Linked DNA regions of Homo sapiens: region 2 is linked to region 1. Evidence: fine-mapped expression QTL. A gene starts in region 1. The other region holds a variant in brackets. All regions are shown on one strand. Distances are from middle to middle.

Region 1 (2,913 bases):
ATGTCCTAGGTGTTTTCAGATAGGTGAGTTTGTTTGTGGGACAAGTCAGAGAAGAGAAAAGAAACCGGTTGTAGTTACAAGACTCTAGGAACCCGACAAGTCATTTATAATCCAACTACCCTCTCAGTATCAGACTGGCTTCCACAAGTCTAAAAGATGGTCAATCAGTATTTGCCTGCTTGTTTCCAACAATAGCAAATGAACCATTGGTAAACTGACCATTCTCAGAGTCGGACAGCTCGAATTTGTTGCAAAATCCTTCGAAGTTATCTCCCAGTAACTTTCATTCCTGGTCCTGGTTCAAGAGCAACATAGTGAAAGGTGAAAGTCGTCTTTTTCTTTAAAAAAACTTTTTTTAAAAAAAAAAAAAACAGGTTTTACTTCCTGGCATGTCAATACGTTCCCTTCTTTCAACAATGGGGAAATAAATCTCACCCCCTTTTCCCCCCTTCAATGTTTGACTCCCCTTAAAGAAAAACGGAATACCAGGCACAGGGAACATAGAGTTCCTCTGACTCAGAGCCGCGACCTCTGAGCAGAGCGGAGGAAAGGGGCTTAAAAAACCACACACACTAGGAAGAGTTGCAGCTGATACGAATCACCATTGCCAAAAAGCAAACTGCTTCAGCCGGTGCCCAGGTGCTGGGACGCGATAGAAGCCGCACAGACTTGGCCTGGCAGCTCTGAGGAAATGGGGGCCAAGGAGCCTGCACCTCTTCTTGCCAAAGCCCGGGAGAGCTGAGTGGGCGCTCGTTCTCAGGCCGGCTGCAAGCCCGGCGCTTCACAAGGCAGAGCGTTCGGCCCCCGGGAAGCGGCATCGCTAAAAGGAAGGCTCAGTGAAACGCTTGGCAAAGTCCAAGCCGCGCCGCCCAGCCAGTTGTCTATAAGCCCAGCCACCCCGCCTGCCAGACGCCATCCTGGGAACCCGCACCGGCGGGAGCTCCCGGAGTTGGAAACGTCTTTGGCTCGGCCGCGGTCCCCTCTGCCCGTCTATCCCGCCTCTCCACCCTCGCTCACTCCCTGGCCCGAGACTGAGCCGGGGTCCACCCCAGGGGGTGGTGCCCAGGAGGCACACCACGCTTGGGGGAATGGTGGAGACCGGGATGAGGCTTCCTGGAGGGCGGGCGGGCGGCCGCGGCGGGTCACTCACCGAAAGGACGCTCATGCGGATTGGGGTCTCCAACAAGCACGCCATCTTGAGCCTTCCCACCCGGCTGCTGCAGGCGCCGGCGCGGGGGCCGGCACTTTCGACAGCCAACTATTGGCCAACGCTAGGCACCGCTCCCTAAAGGCAGCCAGATAGACGAGAACTGGCCACGCTCTGGACACCGCTCAAGTACCGGAAAGGCCCGCAGAAAGAAGGGCAAAAGGGAATGGCGTCAGGGGCTGTCCTACGAATCGTTCTCTCAGAAACAGCAGCTACTCTGAGCCTGGGTTAGAGGTGGAAGCGGGCAGCGGTTTCCGCATGCGCAAAGAAGATCTGCCGGCCCCACCTGCCGCTCGCGGTGGGCGGGGCCCCAGAGGCGGAGTCTCGCCCTGACGCTACGAGTTTTACGGACTGATAAATTGCAGTTTATGGATTCCAGTATTCATATTTGGAAAAAGTAGTACGTGGAGCCACATACATAGTTTGAAGTTCACTTTCATATTCATTCTCTCTCTCTGCACCAAACTCCCGGCGTCGTTATCTCCATTTTATAGGTGGGGAAATTGCGATCCCAGAACCTTTGCCAACCGTAAGAGTGATTGTTTCACGATCCGATACAGATACGTGACTTGCCTTAGCGTTGTGTGCCGGCCCCGTTTATTCTGGTGTAGTGTTAAGAATAGCCAGAATGCTTGGGTTTCTTCCTAGCTACTTGATTTATCAGCTGCTTTACCCTGGGCAAGTTATCTAACCTTCTGTTTGAGTTTCCTCATCTATAAAATAAAGGTTAATGAGGATAGAGGAGTCAACAAACGTGAAGCTCTCAGAAAAAACCTAGAACATAGAAAGCGTTATACAATATGTGTTAACATTTCTCCAGCTTCTGAGTTAAGTGGGGAAAATGGGGGCAAATATCTAAATATTTCGCACTAAAACACTCTCATAACCGAAGCTAAATAAAAGTATGCTTTCAATTATACTTGATTAATTCAGCTGTCCTACTACTTTGTGTGTGTGTGTGTGTGTGTGTGCAACACTGCCCTTGACTTGGTTGGATAAGTTTCACCTTCGTACTGCTTGCAACCAGTAAGGTTTTCACAGTATGGTTGCAATTGGCCTGTTAACATTACTTGTATTCCTTCCATTTCTATAGCCACACCCTAATTCAGGCTCTTGTAACCTCTCCCCTGGACTACAGCAATAGCCTTCCAACTGGTCTTGTAGCTGGTAGCCTCTCCCGCACTCTGCTCCTCACTGTTTTCCTGTCTTCCTCCTGTACTTGGTTTCCAAATTTAGTGTAGCATTTACCACCCCTGCTTATGGGTCTGTGTTCCTTAACAAACTGTTGAATTCCTGGAAGGCAGGAATTTTATTTTAGGTAGTCCTTCTGCTATAATACTATTTCTGAAACTTGGGTAATCTGTACACCACCTACACAATCTTTGCCAATCTGCACCTAGGTATTATTATTCATTCAATATTTTTATTTAAAGCCAATTTCAACTCATTAAAAATTTTTGGCTTTATCCTAAACCATAATACTCTGTGAAATCAAGTTTGTTGTGCTCCTTATTTTTATTCTAGTACACATTAACTACAAAAAGTTTAAATGTCCATCCATGGACCACCTAAAATCACATCATGTACTGCATACTGCAATGGGGCAGAACATAACCCTAATACATAGTATATAGAGTCATTATAACTGTATTTGATCCACACTCCATCCATTAGCTCAAGCAATACATCCTCCAGGAATTGTCTCC
Region 2 (2,913 bases), 120 kb before region 1:
ATAAGAATTGTTTGAGTTGGATTCTAACAACGGAGAAGGCACAGTTTAGGACAGCAAAACTTCAAGGGTGAAGAGAAAATCAGTGATTGTGATTCTGCAGGAGACATTTGTTGCTCCCCTGTTGCATCATCTCCTCTTTCTTCCCTCCTCCATGATTTCCTCCCAAATCAAGTCTCTCCCACGTAGAAAACCATCTAAGATACCGCCCTTACCCTTCCTTAGCCTTCCTCTTATTCACAGCCAAGCTTCCTTTGTCCACACTCTAGGCCACCTTCACTTTCCATTCATGCCCCGACCTGCAGCAATCTGGCCTCTGCGCTCACTACTCCCTGAAATGGTGCTCATTGGTGGCACCAACAGGTAGTTACCAGTTCATATCTTATGGGATTTTTCTGCAGAATGGGATGATGTTCACAATGTCTTCCTTCTCAAAACCTTCTCTTCCGGTTTCTGAGATGTCACAACTTTTCTTGTTTTCCTTCTATGTCTCTGGCCTCTCCTCAGTTTCTCCTTCATTGGCTTCTTTTCTTGTGCTGCCCTTTTAACCTGGAGCACCCCAGGCCCCTGCTTTGGTCTCTTTTCTTCTTCCTCTACCTCTAGGTGATCTCACTAATCAATTTATAATGGAATTTATTGTAAAACTCTCTTAAAATCTAAATATTCATAACACGTTAGAAATAGTAATGTCAGAAAGAAATAACAGATTTGTTGCTTGAAATGATTTATACATTTGCAGTACATGTTTTTGAGATTTTTCAGAGTAGAAGCCCTCGTTAAATGTAGATATTGTCTTGTTTCATTTCAACACAACCAATGTAAAAGCTGAGAAACAAAATAGGTGATGGGAGAATGATGATTCTGTGGAGAGTGTAGATAACTCATCCAAGACAAGTTTATATAATATAAGCAGGAGGACAATGGAGATGGGCTCATGGACTAGACACAGACCTCCCTACAGCTCCTGTGGGACTAAGCAGTGGACTCTGATCCTGTGGCACCTCCCTCATTGTCATAGCTAATTGGACTGGTGGATGCTTATTCAAGGGCAGTCAATCAGCAGACTGGCCAGTGAGCTAGGGCTGGTACCTTGGCTAAAACCAATGAGTGGGGCAATCTGGCTTCTCTCAGGAGAACTTGAACGGAGACAGACTACTGAAACTGCAATCTGGTAGTATGTGCTGGAGCTGAGAAGTCATGGAACATCATGCAGACTCAGGGCCTGGAGGAGCCATTTTTAGCCACATGGCAGGAAAGGGAAAAAGTATCAGAGGCACAGGAGCCAGTAGAGTGAAAGGAGAGCACGTGGCAGACAGCAGGTAGAGTGCTGGGAATCATGAGAGGGTGAGGGCAGCCAGGCCTGTATTGCCCATGCTCCAGGCCCCCCTCTCACTTTCTCCTATACCTCCTCTTCTTCCCACTCCCCAGGCCAACTCAATTCAGTTGTTTCTGGATTTCTGGTCCCAAGCAGTCTTTGAGCAATCCCTTCTCCCATGTTCCTCCTCTGCCACCTGCCCAGGTTCATTGAGCCAGTCTCTGAGTCTCTGTTCCTTGCAGCAAGATGGAGGTTGAGGTCTGGCCTCAGGTCTGGAGTCAGACTGGTGCATCCACCAGAGTCCAGGTTTGCAGGGGCAAAACTAAGAGGCCAGGGAAGGGAACTCTGAGAGCCCAAGCCTGTGCCTGGCACTTGGTGCAATGGAGCCTTGTGTAGAGG[T/C]TGCATTGTTTTTTGTGGATGGCCTCTCAGGAGCCTCAAACATCAGCATCTGACAGCACCATTTTTTGGCTTAGTTTCATCAGAGAGGACCTGTACCTTGGCCATCATTAAACCAGATGCAGTGGCCCATGGAAAGACTGATGAGATTATCATGAAGGTAAGAGAGACAACACTTACCATGCACCACTGTCCTTGTGTCCTCTTTTGTGGATAAACAGGGATGGGGCACTGGGCAGTGATATCTTAGTGCAGAAAGATGAATTCTAAGGGGTTGTAGCTCAAGTTCCATTCAAGTAAATGAAAATGTTAAATCTGATTGGGACAGATAATGTGGGGATCAGTGTCTCCACAGCCTTTAATGTTGCCTGTCTTTATTTTTTACCTTTCAACTAAATTAATTAATCAATGTGAATTTGGGCTTGATTTACCCTTTTAGAATATTTATATATATTCTACAGATTCAGGAAGCTGGGTTTGAAATTCTAACAAATGAAGAGAGAACCATGACAGAGGCAGAAGTGCGACTTTTCTACCAACACAAAGCTGGAGAGGTCAGCTCATCTACTTCCACAAGTTCAACACACTGTCGTTTCTCTTCCTCCAACATTATGCTTATAGATTGATATCAGTTTGTGACAGAAGAAATTATGAAGAACCAAAATAGGAACAGCAAGTGGGTCATGAATTTATTCTCAGAATGACAATAGGCTGTATCAGGTAAAGTTTTTTGGTTGCAAAGAAAAGGTTTTCTCTCTAAGAAATGAATTAAGGAATTTATTAGAAGGAAAGTCCATAACTCACAGAATTGAAGGGAGAGTTTAATGAGAAGGGCTTGGAGACAAAAGGAAGCTAGGGATCTCGAAGCAAAGCCTCGAGCATATCACTTTAGATACTGCCATTGGATAACTCAGATCTAACTACCTTCCATTTGCTTCTGCTGATAACCCACCTGCTTGGGAGTCTTCTTGGCTTAGCTTGGGTCAGAACCCTTCCTCTCAGGTCAGGGGTGTGTGTGTGTGTTGGGGAATAGGCATCCCATGGTTGTCAGTCAAACTTGGACCAAATGAAATGGGTAAGGGCTGTTCCCCAAAGGAAAACCAGAGTACTGTTACTTGAAGAGGGAGGAAGGGTTGTGAGGCATTGCATGGAAAAGAAAAAAAGTACCAACTATATTTCAGCCCTTGGTTATCCAGCATCACACG

Alleles and levels. Alleles are on the strand shown, and positions count from the first base shown. SD is a standard deviation of normalised expression in the study named.
With allele C in place of T in region 2, the expression in prefrontal cortex of the gene that starts at base 1,449 in region 1 is lower (small effect, 0.31 SD a copy in CommonMind).

The links. PIP is the estimated chance that this variant, and not a neighbour inherited with it, causes the effect. A credible set is the group of variants that fine-mapping cannot tell apart.
Region 2: its variant is the best candidate, but not a certain one, in a credible set for the expression of ARMC8 in prefrontal cortex (CommonMind, PIP 0.73).

The regions. Positions count from the first base shown.
Region 1 is chr3:138,185,837-138,188,749 of GRCh38, reverse strand. ARMC8 (armadillo repeat containing 8) reads right to left here and starts at 1,449. Exons shown (of 22, transcript NM_001363941.2): 1 at 1,151-1,449. The coding sequence starts at 1,195.
Region 2 is chr3:138,305,353-138,308,265 of GRCh38, reverse strand. NME9 (NME/NM23 family member 9) reads left to right here. Exons shown (of 11, transcript NM_001349018.2): 7 at 1,786-1,868; 8 at 2,170-2,262. Among named protein-coding and RNA genes, the nearest start is that of NME9, 23 kb to the left of the region's middle. The variant T/C (reference allele first, on the strand shown) is at 1,712.